Regions from separate parts of the Homo sapiens genome. Here region 1 is linked to region 2. A link means that fine-mapping ties the variant in region 2 to the expression of a gene that starts in the linked region. Tissue or cell type: whole blood. Region 2 holds a variant in brackets; the other region holds the start of a gene. All regions are shown on one strand. Distances are from middle to middle.

Region 1 (8,021 bases), 24 kb after region 2:
GGTGTTCCGCCCTTGCCAGGCGCGAGTCTGGGGCTGCCAGGACCTTCCCCCAGGAGGCGTCGGGGAGGGCGGGGCGCTGGACGGCCCTCCTGGCCTGGGGAGCGATTCCAGGGGAGGGGGCCCCCCACAGCCCTAGGCCTCTGAACCAGGAGCTGCCCCGCAGCCCCGCTGCTCAGACAGGGATATTGAGGTCCTGCTAGGGAAGCTCTCTCTGGGGTCCCCGCCCCCGCTTTCAATGTGAATGCTCATCGCCTCCTAGGCTTATCGCATCTTCCCAAGTCATCATTTTACAGATGGGGAAACTGAGGCCGGGTCGCAGCTATGAGTGCAGGGGCCCAAGCACCTCAGTTTGAAAGCTGCAGCCAGGACCCAGATGACCAACCCCCTTTCTGTTATCTGGGGGTCTGGTAGGGCCTCTGAACACAGCTGTTGAGTTTATGTGCCAGCCTCAGTTTCTCTGTGTGTAAAGTGGGGCTGACGAGGGAGCCCCACTTCCAAGGCAGTGCGGCACTCCTTAGGGGATGGCCAGCGCCCGCCACGCAGCCCTTGCAGGGCATGTGGGCCGCACCTGGGCGGCCCCGGCACAGCGGCTCACAGGCACATCTGGAAATGCTCGGCCAGGGTGGCTTTTATGCGAGCGAGAACGGAAGGGGGCCTGAGTTCCGTCCCCAGGGCCAGATGAGGTTGGGGGTGGGGGGTCCTGGGCCGTCTCATGCCCAGGCCAGGCACTTTTTGAAGACTGTCCTTCTCCCAGAAGCCAGAGGGGGGTCTGGAGGGAGCAGGGGTATGTGGCAGTGAGTTCAGGACCACCCAGCCAGGCTGATCTGGGATTAATCACATCTCAGAGGCCAGCAGAGTTCCTCAGCCTGGCCTTCGGGTCTGCAGCCCTCAGCTTCAGCCTCCCCTTGGCTCCTCTGCCTGACCCCACCCACCAGGACCTAACCTCAAGCCATGTTCTCTCCTGATCCACTCTCCCATACCGGCCCCATCTGGCAAACTCCTAGACATCCCCCAACACCCCAGCTCTAATGCCCACCTCCTTCAAGATGTGCCCCAACAGGCCAGGCATGGTGGCTCACGCCTGTAATCCCAGCACTTTGGGAGGCCAAGGCTGGCAGATCACTTGAGGTCAGGAGTTTGAGACCAGCCTGGCCAATGTGGTGAAACCCTGTCTCTACCAAAAACATAAAAATTAGCCAGGTGTGGTGGCGCGCGCCTGCAGTCCCAGCCCCTGGGGAGGCCGAGGAAAGAGAATCACCTGAACCTCGGAGGCCGAAGTTGCAGTGAGCCAAAATCGCACCACTGCACTCCAGCCTGGGTGACAGAGCGAGGCTCCATCTCAGGAAAAAAAAAAAAAAAAAAAAAAAAAACCATCATCCTCCAGTGCGGAGAATCTTATTCATTCGTTCTGTGCCACTCGCCAACCAAGAGCCCCTAGTCTGATGTGGGAGGCATCCTCTCAAAACAGGGTCCCGAGGCAAATGCTTGTTAAACATGCAGCTGTAACCCCACCGCAGACCCTGGAGTCTGCAGTGAAGGTCCCTGGTGTGGACATTTGGGGTCACAGGCCAGAATGGCAAACCCACCTTCCCAGGAGCTAGGTGCAAGCCAGACATTTATCGACCAGGTGGGAAGAGCCACCCAGGCAGAGAGCTCAGCCCCAGCAAAGGCTGGAGCCACGTGGTCTCTTCCTGAGTCCTGAGCTGCAAGAGGCTGGAGCCTGGGAACCGGGAAGTCCCCCCAGTCCCTCTCTGAGGCTGGGATCCCCCTGCAGCCTCCTACATACCCCTGTGACGGGCTCAGTCCCTGGACGTTCGGCCCTCGACCACCATGACTGTTTGTGGCTGGTCCTGAGCTGAGACGTCTGCCCTGCTTCTGGCCTGAGGTCTCACCTTTGCAGGGAAGGCAGTGGACAAGGCCCAAGAAGCCGAGGAGGTTGATCTTGTTCCCCGGGTGGGTGAGGTTGGACCAGGCGGTGTCAATGTTGCCGGAGGCACAGCACTCGGCCCGGGTGACATCAGTCTGGAGCACCAGGCTGCAGGTGGCCTCCTGGCCCTGCTGGAGCCAGCAAACACCACCTGCGGGCCGGGGAACGGGGTGCTCTCCTGGGCCACTCCTGACACCCAGCTTCTGGCCCGCCCACAGATGCATGCAGGTGGTGCTGAGTAGTTACGCACGGAATGATCTACCCCCACCCAGGAAGAAGGGGCAGAAAACCACATGGGTGTCCCCACCCTGGCTCCAGAACCCTGGAAATGTCTCCTCCCCTCTGAGCTCCACGTGCCCCCCCCCACAGCCTCACCACCAACCCCCACCCACCCCAGGAGGTCCCTTCCCGTACCCTCCAAGCCCCCAGGCCAGGGGCTGGCACCCTGCCCAACCCCTCAAACACCACCAAACACCAGGCACTGGGCATGTCAGGGTCAGCAGGCCCTGGAGCCGCTTCTCCCGCCTCTGCCCTCTGTCTAGACAGCACCCGAGGGCGAGGGCACGCGGAGCCCCGCGCCTGGCAGCCCCCCCACCGCCTGGCCCGCCTCTTACTCACTCCAACTTGGGAACATTCCCCTTGCATGAGCTCACTGTCTCCCCAGGGACGTGGCCTTCGGGGAGGGGGCTCTGCTCTCCCTTTGGCGCAGGGCTGGGGTGGGGTGGGGCTGCAGGGATGGGGGGTGGGGAGCCAGAGAGCCCCCCATTTCTTCCCCCGTCCCTGGGGGCAGGAACGGCCACAGCCCCCATCCCAGAGCGCTTGCTGGTTCACAGACACTGCCAGGGACCAGCTTGTGGAACGCAGCACCTTGGCACCCATCATAGGAGGGGAAACTGAGGCCAGGAGTGGGGCCGTCTCCTGCCTGGCACCTCCCGGCAAGTCCCAGGTGTGAGACTCCATGCCCCGTCTACCCAGGACCCGGGAAAGCTCTCAGCCCCAGCTGGAGGGCCTGGCTCCCGACACCCAGCACTACCTCTCGGCACCAGGACCGACCCGGACGGTCGCGGCTAGAACCCTGGCTTTGCCTGCTACAGGCTGTGTGACCCTGAGCCTCAGTTTCCCCATCTGGAAGACGGAGATGAAGAGAGCTCCGGCACTATCGGGATGGCACAGGTTCAGGGAGGGGAGAGGTAGACACTAAGCGCTCAATAAATGTCAGCGGTCATTGTGATTAGAAACCTCTGCTCTGCTGACCTCTTGGTGACCCTCCTTCAGACCTTCCCGGCTCCAGCTTGCGCCGGACACCGCCCTCGCCCCCGCCGCCGCCGCCGCGCCCCCCGACGTCCCCCCGGCCGCATTCCGCGCAGCCCCACGTGGGTGGCCCGCCCCGCCCGCCCCTCTGGCCGCCCCACTCACCGGGCGCGGGGTTCCCCGAGCCCATGGAGCTCACGAAGCCCACGGCCCAAGCCAGGGCCCCCCAGGGCAGAGGCCAGAGTGGCCCTGGCGCCCCGGGACGCATGGCGAACGCAGAGACGGCAGCGGCACCGACTTCCCAGCGCGCGGCCGGCGCTCCCTATAAAGGTCCCGCGGGCCGCGGGCGGGGCGGGGCGCGGGGCGGGGCGCGGCGCGGGAGTGGCGGGGGCGAGGCCGTGTCCCGCGCGGGGTGGGCAGGCGCCGGGCCCGGCCGCTGCGGGGGGCAGTTGGGGGCGAGCGCCCGGGTCCCCTTCCGGAGCCAGAGAATGCATTTGGGGAGATGTGGCTGGACCCAGGGCGGAACCGGGACAGGGGTGTGGGTTCGAGGTGGTGGCAGCCTTTTGGGTGGATCGAGGGGCCGTCTCCAGGAATTAAAGTGGGTTTGGGGGTCTTCAGTTTCAGGGGTGGCGGTGAGGTAACGGGGACCCAAGAGGAGCACGTCTGTGGATCCCTGCATCCCGTTTCTGTGATTTGCATGTGGTCACTTTCATGGTCCAAGTGTGGTCTGAGCCCCCCAACCCGGCCTCCTTGTTCCCGACCCGCCCCACACACCCAAAACCTCAGCTGGATATGGTTCCCTGCTCACAGCGCGGGCCGCGCACCCGTCCACCTGGCCGCTGGAGCCGGCCTGTGGGTGGGGAGTGGTTGGGTGTGGGACAGAACGGGGTGCGGCCGGGACAGACCCAGAGACACAGCTCCTTCCAGCATCTCGGACAACAGCAGGCCTCGCCCAGCCACGGCCCCCAGGGAGGCCACTGCGTGTGTGTGTGTGTGTGTGTGTGTGTGTGCGCGCGCACGCCTGGCCTTTGTCCTGGGCCCCTGGGCAGCTCTGCCCCATCAGCCCTCCAAGCCTTTGCAGACATTCCCCCAGATCACCTCAACAAGAATGTTTACTAGGTTTTTTCCTCTCCCTCCAAGATTCAGCAAACACTGTTTCCAGCAGAGGCGTTTCCAACAATGTATGACAGCGACATCTGCGTGGGCCTGGAGGCGCTGCGCCCGAGGGGGCTTTCGTGCAGCCAGACACATTTCCTACTCTGGAGCTGATTCTGTCATGGGGGCCTCCAGATTTGTCAGGCGCCCTTGGCGAGCGCAGGGGAGCCCCTCTGTTCCTGCTTCTAGGGCATCAGTGAACATCTCTTTTGGCCAGAGGGACCCTGCGGGGTGCTGGGGTGCCACGGTGACCAAGGCAGACCCCATCACACCCTCACCGAGCTCCTGGTTTGGACAACAAAATGCAGAGACAAATTAATCTATAACTTCAAGGAGTGGTAAATGCTTTCAGGAAAATACAGAAGGTTGAGGTGGTGGAGAGCGGTTGGGTGTCTGCTGGGCATGCCTGTGTCTGGCCACTCGCTGTGCCGGCATTGCCCACCCCGCAGGTGGAAACGGACGTGTCCAGCAGCCCCACGGCACAGCCCCTTCTCTGGCCTGAGTGAGATCTGTGCCCACAGAAGACACACCTGTACCCTTTCCTCCACCTTAGCTGCCCAGCCTGTGTCCCCCAGCAGCCAGTGGCCAGGGGCCAAGTTCTGCCTTAGTGGCACTGAGGGGGGACACCCCGCCGTCTTGACCTGGCCTTGGCCTCTGGCATTTCCCCCGGGAATCTCCCCGGCTTGGGGAGCAGGGCAGGGACGGGACCCTGTATTCTCACTGAGGGGGGACACCCCGCCGTCTCGACCTGGCCTTGGCCTCTGGCATTTCCCCCGGGAATCTCCCCGGCTTGGGGAGCAGGGCAGGGACGGGACCCTGTGTTCTCACTGAGGGGGGACACCCCGCCGTCTCGACCTGGCCTTGGCCTCTGGCATTTCCCCCGGGAATCTCCCCGGCTTGGGGAGTGGGGCAGGCACAGGACCCTGTGTTCTCACTGACGGGGGACACCCCGCCGTCTCGACCTGGCCTTGGCCTCTGGCATTCCCCCGGGACTCTCCCGGGATTGGGGAGTGGGGCAGGGATGGGACCCTGTGTTCTCACTGAGGATGTGCGGGGGCTGGACAGTGTGACCTTGGCCAAGACCTGACCCCGCCGTGGCTTGGCCACTCCGGCCTGGGCTGTGCGAATCAAAGGGTCATTGTCTGGCTGGCGTGGGTTCCGGCCCTCTCCGGGGAAACCGAGGCCAGCTGCCAGTGGCCTCCTGCTCCCGGCTCTGTCTTCCCTAACCCAGAGGCTCTGTGCAGGGTGACCTCTAACAGGTCACTGACCCTTTCCAGAGCGCCGCCTCCTCCTGAGACCCCAGTGATGACCTCCCCTCTCCCGGCTCTGCCCCTCTCCCCACCCTATCCAGGCCCGAGGCTCATCCTAGGACTTCCAGCCCGCAGCCTGGCCCCTGCGGCCCACTTCCTACCCCAGCTGCCATAACACTTCTCCCTGGCTCAGACACCCACCGTGGCTCCTCGTGGCCTCTGCTCACCCCCCAGGCTTCTGTCTCCCTCCAGGTACATCCTGACAGGTAAACAGACAGTGACAATCCAGTGTTGTTCTGTGGCGGAGGATGCCCAGATGGCAAAGGTGCCCCAGGCCTGACCCGGGCCTGGGGGAGACTGAGGAAGGCTTCCCAGAGGAAAGAGACGTTGAGGTTGAGACTCGAACGTCAGACGGAGCGGCAGGGGTGTGCGCTGGAAACAGACGCTTGTGCTGTGAGTGAGGGGGAGAGCAGTGGGGGGTGGTCAGCAGAACGGCGGTCCCAGAGACCATGGGGCCCTCATCCCTAGAACCCGTGGGTGTCCCACCCTCCCTGGCCAAAGGGGCTCTGCAGATGGGACTGAGTTGAGGGCTTTCACACAGGGGTTCATCCTGGGTTATACGGATGGCCCACTGTCCTGGAAGGGTCCGTAGAAGAGGAGATGCCTGGCCGGGCGCGGTGGTTCACACCTGTGAACCACCAACACATTAGGTTCACACCTGTGAACCTCCAACACATTAGGAGGCCGAGGCAGGCAGATCACTTGAGGTCAGGAGTTCGAGACTAGCCTGGCCAACATGGTAAAACCCTGTCTCTACTAAAAATACAAAAAAATTAGGTGGGCCTGGTGGTGTGCGCCTGTAATCCCAGCACTTTGGGAGGCCGAGGCAGGAGGATCACTTGAAGTCAGGAGTTCGAGACTAGCCTGGCCAACATGGTAAAACCCCGTCTCTACTAAAAATACAAAAAAATTAGGTGGGCCTGGTATTGTGCACCTGTAATCCCAGCTACTTGGGAGGCTGAGGCAGGAGAATCACTTGAACCTGGGAGGCAGAGGTTGAAGTGACCCGAGATCGTGCCACTGCACTGCAGCCTGGGTGACAGAGCGAGACTCTGTCTCAAAAAAAAAAAAAAAAAAAAGGAGACGCCTGCCCTCTATGGTTAGAGACAGGATAAGAGAAGGACTTGGCTGCCATTGCGGGATTTGGAGATGGAGGAAGGGGGCTCAAGCCAGGGAATGTGGGCGGCCTCTAGGAGCCTGGAAAGGCGCGGAACAGATTCTCTCCTGGAGCTGCCAGAAGGAATGCAGCTCTGCCAACACCTCGATCTTCTCCCAGCCAGACCCGTGTGGAACTTTTTTTTTTTTTTTTTTGAGACGTAGTCTCGTTCTGTTGCTTAGGCTGGAGTGCAATGGCGCGATCTCGGCTCACTGCAACCTCCGCCCCCGGGTTCAAGCAATCCTTCTGCGTCAGCCTCACGAGTAGCTGGGATTGTAGGCACCTGCCACCACAACTGGCTAATTTTTGTATTCTTAGTAGAGACGCGGTTTCGCCATGTTGGCCAGGCTGGTCTTGAACTCCTGACCTCAGTGATTCACCCGCCTTGGCCTCCCAAAGTGCTGGGGTTACAGGTGTGAGCCACCATGCCTGGCCATTTTTATTTTTTTGAGACAGGGCCTCACTCTGTTGTCCAGGCTGGAGTGCAGAGGTGCGATCTCGGCTCACTGCAACCTCAGCCTCCAGACTAAGTGGGATTACAGGCGCCTCCCACCACACCCGGCTACTTTTTTTTTTTTTTTTTGCAGTGACGGGATTTTGCCATGTTGGTCAGGCTGGTCTCAAACTCCTGACCTCAGGTGATCTGCCCATCTTGGCCTCACAAAGTGCTGGGATTACAGGCATGAGACACTGCGCCCAGCCCGTGTGTTGCTTTAAGCCAGGCAGTTTGTGCAAATTTGTTATAGCAGCCGTGGGTGCCCACTGTGTGCCAGGCCCTGGGACCCTTCTAGGCCTGTTTTCTTTTTCTTTCTTTTTTTTTTTTTTTGAGACAGAGTTTCGCTCTTGTTGCCAAGGCTGGAGTGCAGTGGCGCAATCTCGGCTCACTGCAACCTCTGCCTCCCGGGTTTAAGCAATTCTCTTGCCTCAGCCTCCTGAGTAGCTGGAATTACAGGCATGCACCAGCAGACCCAGCTAATTTTTTGTATTTTTAGTAGAGATGGGTTTCACCATGTTGGCCAGGCTGGTCTCGAACTCCTGACCTCTGGCGATCCAGCTGCCTTGGCCTCCCAAATTGCTGGGATTACAGGCGTGAACCACCGTGCCCAGCCTATGCCTGTTTTCTTATCTGTAACATGGGCACAGACCCCAGTGTTAGAGGTTCCAGGTGGGATGTGGACAGTGCCAGGCGCACAGTAGGGCCATGGCGTGCATAGATTCCTGT
Region 2 (8,253 bases):
GTCAGAGACCCCCCTCGCCTCTCCCCAGCCATGACTTTAGCTGAGGCCTTATGGCCCCCACCCCAACCCTGAGCCATGTCGCCTCCGGGTCTCCCCACCTCCTCTCCCTACTCCACTCTTTCACCAGAGAAATATGCCCTGGCCTGCCCCAGCTCAAACACCATCTATGGTTCCCCAGTGCCCTGCAGCCCCACAAGGCAAAGCTGAGCCCAGACAATCCTGTCTCTTCCCTGCTCACCTCTCCTTGCCCCACAACCAGCTTGGGCTTCAGCCATCCAGACACCTGCTGTTAGACGCCTTGTGTGTTCCTCTGGGAGAACTTCCCCAGCTTCCCCATTGTCACTGGGTGCCCTCGGTACCCTTGTTGTTTTTATTTTTTTGAATAAGATAGGGTCTCACTCTGCCACCCAGGCTGGAGTGCAGTGATGTGATCTTGGCTCACTGCAGCCTCGACCTCCCCCATCAGGTAATCCTCCCACCTCAGCCTCCTGAGTATCTGGGACTACAGGTGTGCACCACCACACGTGGCTAATTTTTTTTTTTTGAGACAGAGTCTTGCTCTGTTGCCCAGGCTGGAGGGCAATGGCGCAACCTCAGCTCACTGCAACCTCCACCTCCTGGGTTCAAGCCATCCTTCCACCTTAGCCTCCTGAGTAGCTGGGATTACAGGTGCCCACCATCATGCCTGGCTAATTTTTGTATTTTTAGTAGAGACGAGGTTTCACCGTGTTGGCCAGACTGGTCTGGAGCTCCTGACCTTAGGTGATTCACCTGCCTCGACCTCCCAAAGTGCTGGGATTACAGGCGTGAGCCACCGTGCCTGGCGTTTGCTATTCCTCTTGTCTGTCCACACTCTCTTTCCCACTAAATTCTTCTGACAGACAATGTCATTTACATGTTGTGTTCAGCGTTTCCTTCCTGCCTCTCTGCTGAATGTCAGCCCCACAAGGGCAGGAACTTGCCTGTCTTCTTCACTGCTGAGTCCCCAAGGCCCACAACACTGTCTGTACACAGTAGGTGCTCAATAAATGCTCACGGAATGAGTTGAGTGAATGAATGGATGGTTTCCTGTCTTCTACCCTCTTCTCTGACTGTGATGGCTTCCATGGGAAGGACGGGGCAGGATCCAGCTTACGGATGGGCAAACAGGCGCTTTACAAGGGGCGCCAGGGCCCCAGTCCCCACCAGCATGCCGCATCCAGTACCTTGCTGTTTTTTTTTTTTTCCAACGGAGTCTCGTTCTTGTCACCCAGGCTGGAGTGCAGTGGCGCGATCTCAGCTCACTGCAACCTGCATCTCCTGGGTTCAAACAGTTCTCCTGCCTCAGCCTTCCGGGTAGCTGGAATTACAGGTGCCCGCCACCACCCCCAGCTAATTTTTGCATTTTTAGTAGAGACGGGGTTTCACCATGTTGGCCAGGCTGGTCTCGAACTCCTGACCCCAGGTGACCCGCCTGCCTCAACTTCCCAAAGTCCTGGGATTACAGGCGTGAGCCACTGTGCCCAGCCAACCTTGCTGAATTCTCATCAGCACTCTCGGCATTGCCCCAGGGCAACCCATTCCCTAGATGGGAAAACTGAGGCCAGAGAGCTCCGGGGAGCAGGGCCTTTGGACAGCTCAGGGACCCCCAGTAGCGGCCAAGCCAGCCCTCTCCAGTCTGGCTGGAAGGCAGGTAGTGTTGGGTTGTGCTATGTGTATTCTTTTTTTTTTTTTTTTTTTTTTTGAGATGGAGTCTCACTCTGTCGCCCAGGCTGGAGTGCAACGGTGCAATCTTGGCTCACTGTAACCTCCTCCTCCCAGGTTCAAGTGATCCTCCTGCCTCAGCCTCCCGAGTAGCTGGGATTACAGGCACACACCACCGCACCCAGCTAAGTTTTGTATTTTTAGTAGAGATGGGGTTTTGCCATGTTAGCCAGGCTGGTCTGGAACTCTTGACCTCAGGGGATCCGCCTGCCTCAGTCTCCCAAAGTGCTGGGATTACAGGCGCAAGCCACTGCGTCCAGCCAGTGCAATGTGTATTCTTAAGGCAGCTATCTTCCATTTCAAGAAATAGGAAGCAGGTCCGGGCACGGGGACTCACGCCTGTAATCCTAACATTCTGGGAGGCTGAGGCGGGTGGATCCTCTGAGGTCAGGAGTTCGAGAGCAGCCTGGCTAACAGGGCAAAACCTGTCTCTGCTAAAAATACAAAAAAAGATCAGGCGCGTTGGCAACGCCTGTAATCCTAGCACTTTGAGAGGCCAAGGCAGGCAGATCACCTGAGGTTGGGAGTTCAAGACCAGCCTGACCAACATGGCGAAACCCCATCTCTACTAAAAATACAAAATTAGCTGGGGGTGGTGGTGGGCGCCTGTAATTCCAGCCACTCAGGAGGCTGAGGCAGGAGAATCGCTTGAACCCGAGAGGCAGAGTTTGCAGTGAGCTGAGATCATACCACTGCACTCCAGCCTGGGCAACAAGAGCGAAACTCCATCTCAAAAAAAAAAAAAAAATTAGCTGGGCGTGGTGGCGCATGCCTGTAATCCCAGCTACCTGGGAGACTGAGGTAGGAGAATCTCTTGAACTCAGGAGGAAAAGGTTGCTGAGAGCCAAGATCGCGCCACTGCTCTCCAGCGTGGGTGACAGAGCGAGACTCCCTCTCAACAACAACAACAAAAAAAAAAAAAAAAAAGAAGAAGCAATGTCCTGTGGATATACATTTATTGGGGTTAAAAAATAAAGTGAGGCTGGGCACAGAAGCTCATGCCTGTAATCCCAGCACTTTGGGAGGCCGAGGCAGGTAGATCACAAGGTCAGGAGATCGAGACGATCCTGGCTAACACAGTGAAATCCTGTCCGTACTAAAAATACAAAACAAATTAGCCAGGTGTGGTGGCACACACCTGTAGTCCCACCTACTTGGGAGGCTGAGGTAGGAGAATCGCTTCAACCTGGGAGGCAGAGGTTGCAGTAAGCAGAGATCACACCACTGTACTCCAGCCTGGGTGACAAAGCATCTGTCTCAAAAAAATAAAAATAAAGTGAGGCCAGGCTCAGTGGCTCATGCCTATTACACCAGCACTTTGGGAAGCCAAGGTGGGAGGATCAGTCGAGGTCAGTTTGAGGCCAGCCTGGGCGGCATAGTGAGACCCCATCTCTACAAAAAAACTTTTTTTTTTTTTCTTGAGACGGAGTCTCACTCTGTCGCCCAGGCTGGAGTGCAGTGGCGCGATCTCGGCTCACTGCAAGCTCCGCCTCCCGGGTTCTCGCCATTCTCCTGCCTCAGCCTCCCGAGTAGCTGGGACTACAGACGCCCGCCACCGTGCCCGGCTAATTTTTTGTATTTTTAGTAGAGATGGGGTTTCACCGTGTTAGCCAGGATGGTCTCGATCTCCTGACCTCGTGATCCATCCGCCTCAGCCTCCCAAAGTGCTGGGATGACAGGCGTGAGCCACCGTGTCTAGCTTTTTTTTTTTTTTTAATTACCCTGGTGGTTTTGTGAGCCTGTGGTCCCAGCTACAGGGAAGGCGGAGCCAGGAGGCAGAGGCTGCAGTGAGCTGTGATTGCAGTCTCAGCCACCAGGCAACATCTCGTCTTGAAAAACAATTTTTCGCAGGGGAGGGGCCGGGCGCGGTGGCTCACGCCTGTCATCCCATCACTTTGGGAGGCCCAGGCGGGTGGATCACCTGCCATCAGAAGTTCAAGACCAGCCTGGCCAACATGGTGAAACCCCATCTCTACTAAAAATACAAAAAATTAGCTGGGCGTGGTGGTGGGCGCCTGTAATCCCAGCTACTCGGGAGGCTGAGACAGGAGAATCACTTGAACCCGGGAGGCAGAGCTTGCAGTGAGCTGAGATGGTGCCACTGCACTGCAGCCTGGGTGACAGAGCGAGACTCCGTCTCAAAAAAACAAAATAAATAAAATAAAAATGTAAAATTAAATACAATAAAGGAAGCTGTTGTCACCATTGCTGTTGACTCCCTGCAGTGGCTGGTGTCTGAGCTCCTGAAGAGCCGCTCAGATCTGCCATGGAGAGACCCTCCAGGAGAATCGCAGTCCAGCGGCTCATGGGTCAAGACCCTGTGCTGTGTGGCCCCAGACAAATCGGCTCCCCTCTCTGGGCCTCAGTTTGGGAAGTGGGAACAGTGACCCCCACTCAGCCCCCTCCTCAGGGCTGCCAGGAGCTCGGTTTTCTGAGACGCTGGAGGACGGTTGTTTATTTCACAACTGTTCACCAAAAGGGAAGGAA[A/T]TGGCCCAGCTCTGGATAGAATCGGTCCCGAGAGGCAGTGGGAGCTCCTCTGAGGCAGCAGCCCCGGCCCCCTGGCTCCTCACTGTGTGGCAGGGCTAAGGCGCTTACCCTCTCCCTACTGTGTCCCCATCAGCGACCGGGACAGGGACAGCATCGTGAGGGAACAAAGTTCCACACGCCTGCAGCTTCGGGCAATTCTCCTTCTAACGCCCGTGGAGCTGGGGACGTTTTCCAGGTCTCTGCCTCAGTGCTCCGCGACGGAGGGCAGCAGGGGAGGTAGGAGCAAGTCCAGGGGACCCACTCGTGCTGACGCGACGACCGTGGAGACCAGAGTGCCTGCTGTCCAGTCGTTTGACAATATTGACGGACAGCCGGGTGCGATGGCTCACGCCTGTAATCCCAGCACTTTGGGAGGCCGAGGCAGGCCGATCACTTGAGCTCAGGAGTTTGAGACCAGCCTGGGCAATATGGCAAAACCCATCTCTACCAAACAAATAAAACAAAACAAAACAAAAAAACACAAAAATTAGCCGGGCGTGGTGGCAGGCACCTGTAATCCCACCTACTTGGGAGGCTAAGGCAGTAGGATCGCTTGAACTCAGGAGGCAGAGGATGCAGTGAGCCGAGATCAAACCACTGCACTCCAGCCTGGGCGACAGAAGGAGACCCTGTCTCTAAAAGATAAAAACAGGGCCGGGCGCAGTGGCTCATGCCTGTAATCCCAGCATTTTCGGAGGCCAAGGCGGGCGGATCACGAGGTCAGGAGTTCAAGACCAGCCTGGCCAACATGGTGAAACCCCATCTCCACTAAAAATACAAAAAATTGGCCGGGCGTGGGGGCAGACGCCTGTAGTCCCAGCTACTGGGGAGGCTGAGGCAGGAGAATCGCTTGAACCCGGGACACTGAGGTTGCAGTGAGCTGAGATCACGCCACTGCACTCCAGCCTGGCGACAGATCGAGACTCCATCTAAAAAAAAAAAAAAAAACACCCACACACAAAAAAACAATATTGATGGAGCACGGCCCATGCGGTCACAGCGATGCCAGACGGTCCAGTAGACCACAGCAGAGCAGGAAATGGTCCCCAAGTACACGGACCCTGAGCTGGGGTCCCACCTGTCCCCAGGCCCTGGAAACAGCTTTCCATTTCCCAAAATCTTTCCTGCAGCTGCTGTAACGAATTCCCAGAAACGTAGTGGTTTAAAATGATACCAACTTGGGCCAGACATGGTGGCTCACACCTGTAATCCCAGCACTCCGGGAAGCCGAGGCTGGAGGATTGCTCGAGGCCAGGAGTTCAAGACCAGCCTGGGCAACATGGCAAAACCCCGTCTCCACAAAAAATGAAATAATGAGCCGGGCCTGGTGGTGGCAGGTGCCTGTGGTCCCAGCTACTTGGGAGGCTGAGGTGGGAGGATGGCTTGAGCCTAGGAGGTCGAGGCTGCAGTGAGCTTTGATTGCACTGCTGCACTCCAGCGTGGGCGGCAGAGCAAGACCCTGTCTCCCTGTCTCAAAATAAATATATACATAATAAATGAGGCTGGGCGCGGTGGCTCACACCTGTAATCCCAGCACTTTGAAAGGCTGAGGCAGGCAGATCACGAGGTCAGGAGATTGAGACCATCCTGGCTAACGTGGTGAAACCCCATCTCTACTAAAAATACAAAATATCAGCCGGGCGTGGTGGCGGGCACCTGTAGTCCCAGCTACTTGGGAGGCTGAGGAAGGAGAATGGCATGAACCCAGGAGGCGGAGCTTGCAGTGAGCCGAGATCGCACCACTGCAGTCTGGCCTAGGCGAAAGAGCGAGACTCCATCTCAAGAAAATATAATAATAATAATAATAAACGAAATGGCACCAATTTATTCTCTGGCAGTGCTGGAGGTCAGAAGCCCCTGCAGGCCCTTCTGGGCTAACGTCAGGGCATCGGTAGGGCTGGCTTTTCCCGGAGGCTCCAGGAGAAAATTCGTTTCCTGCCGTTTTTTAGCTTCCAGAGGCCGCCCGCATCTCGCAGAGCCCGAGTTCGTTGTGGGGCCTTTTCATACCTTCCTTTCCACGCATTTCCTGTTGCTTCATTTCACTTCATTCTTTATTGAGAACACTTTACATTTGGTAAAACACAGGTCTGGAGCGTTCAATGATGACTTTTTTTTTTTTTTTTTTTTTGAGATGGTGTCTCGCTCTGTCACCCAGGCTGGAGTGCAATGGTGCAATCTTGGCTCACTGCCACCTCCACCTCCCGGTTCAAGCGATTCTCCTGCCTCAGCCTCCCAAGTAGCTGGGATTACAGGCACCTGCCACCACGCCTGACTAATTTTGGTACTTTAAGTAGAGACGGGGTTTCACTATGTTGGCCAGGCTGGTCTTGAACTCCTGACCTCAGGTGATCCACCTGCCTCGGCCTCCCAAAGTGCTAGGATTATAGGCGTGAGCCACTGCACCCGGCCCCAGCCTGTTCATTATTAAGCGCTGACGAGCACCCCACTGCTAGCCACTGCCGTGAACGCCATCACCCGGCTGTGTGAGCTGCAATTTACGACCTGAACTTTGCCACTAAGAACGCTCCCACTGAAAGGTGAAGACCTGCCGGGCTGGGCGCGGTGGCTCAGGCCTGTCATCCCAGCACTTTGGGAGGCTGAGGCAGGTGGATCACCTGAGGTCGGGAGTTCGAGACCAGCCTGACCAACATGGAGAAACTCCGTCTCTACTAAACACACAAATTTAGCGGGGCGTGGTGGTGGGCACCTGTAATCCCAGTTACTCAGGAGGCTGAGGAAGGAGAATCCCTTGAACTCAGGAGACAGAGGTTGCGGTGAGCCAAGATCGCGCCACTGCACTCTAGCCTGGGCAACAAGAGCAAGATTCCTTCTCAAAAAAAAAAAAAAAAAAAAAAAGGCCGGGCACCGTGGCTCATGCCTGTAATCCCAGCACTTTGGGAGGCCGAGGCGGGCGGATCATGAGGTCAGGAGATCGAGACCATCCTGGCTAATATGGTGAAACCCCGTCTCTACTAAAAATACAGAAACAAAATTAGCCGGCTGTGGTGGCGGGCGCCTGTAGTTCCAGTTACTCGGGAGGCTGAGGAACGAGAATCACTCGAACCCGGGAGGTAGAGGTTGCGGTGAGCCGAGATGGTGCCATTCCACTCTAGCCTGGGCAACAAGAGCAAGACTCCATCTCAAAAAAAAAAAGAAAAGAAAAAAAAGGTGAAGACCCCCATGTACAGCCATGTCCCACTGGACTCCGGATCCCACAGAACGTCAGTGCTACAGGCTGGGGTGCGGTCACTGCCTCATCCTCACCTCCTAGCATGAGGTCTGGTATACACTAGGCACTCAATAACTGCTGAATAAAGGCAGAAATCTGCCAGGTGCAGTGGCTGTCTTCTGTGATCTCAGCACTTTGGAAGGCCGAGGAGGGAGGATCGCTGGAGCCCAGGAGTTCGAGACCAGCCTGGGCAACATAGCAAAACCCCACCTATAAAAATAAAATAAAATAAAGGCAGAAATCATCAGAGCTTCCCAGGAGACCGGCCTTCCTCGCTGTCCCCACAGCCCTGAGGTCGGCCCTGGGTTTGGAGATGGGAAGACTGGGGTTTGCGGGGTGGGGGCCGGAGGCGAGCTGCGGGTCTCGAGTGCCGCTGTGACCTCGGTTCCTCGGAAAGCTCCCCACACATGCTGGGCCACGTGGAGGCTGGGTAAACTGAGGCACAGAAGGGTCAATTGCCTTCCCGAGGTCACTTGCAGCCCCAGAGCTGTCTCCTCCTCTCCCTGTTTCCGGACTAGGGGACAATGATTATTATCAACATGATTATTACCAGCCACCACCTGAGACCATCGATTTCTCAGAAACGCCCGCCTGGGCTCCAGGCGTTGCTGGTGGGGCCTCCCGACCACAGGCCACAGCCAGGCTCCCCCTTTCCGGCCGTTGGCTGAGGGTGGGAGCCACGGCCCGAAGACCTCTGCGGGGAGACGCCAGCCTGCGTCTGCCATGGGGCTCGGGTTGAGGGGCTGGGGACGTCC

The links. PIP is the estimated chance that this variant, and not a neighbour inherited with it, causes the effect.
Region 1: it holds the start of FSTL3, and the variant in region 2 is fine-mapped to the expression of FSTL3 in whole blood (TOPMed, PIP above 0.99).

What each region holds. Positions count from the first base shown.
Region 1 is chr19:671,849-679,869 of GRCh38, reverse strand. FSTL3 (follistatin like 3) reads right to left here and starts at 3,478. Exons shown (of 5, transcript NM_005860.3): 1 at 3,344-3,478; 2 at 1,893-2,078. The coding sequence starts at 3,446. RefSeq lists a silencer at 1-167 and an enhancer at 622-1,124.
Region 2 is chr19:695,399-703,651 of GRCh38, reverse strand. It overlaps PRSS57 (serine protease 57), which reads left to right and starts at 8,200. Exons shown (of 5, transcript NM_001308209.2): 1 at 8,200-8,253. The coding sequence starts at 8,222. The variant A/T (reference allele first, on the strand shown) is at 4,231.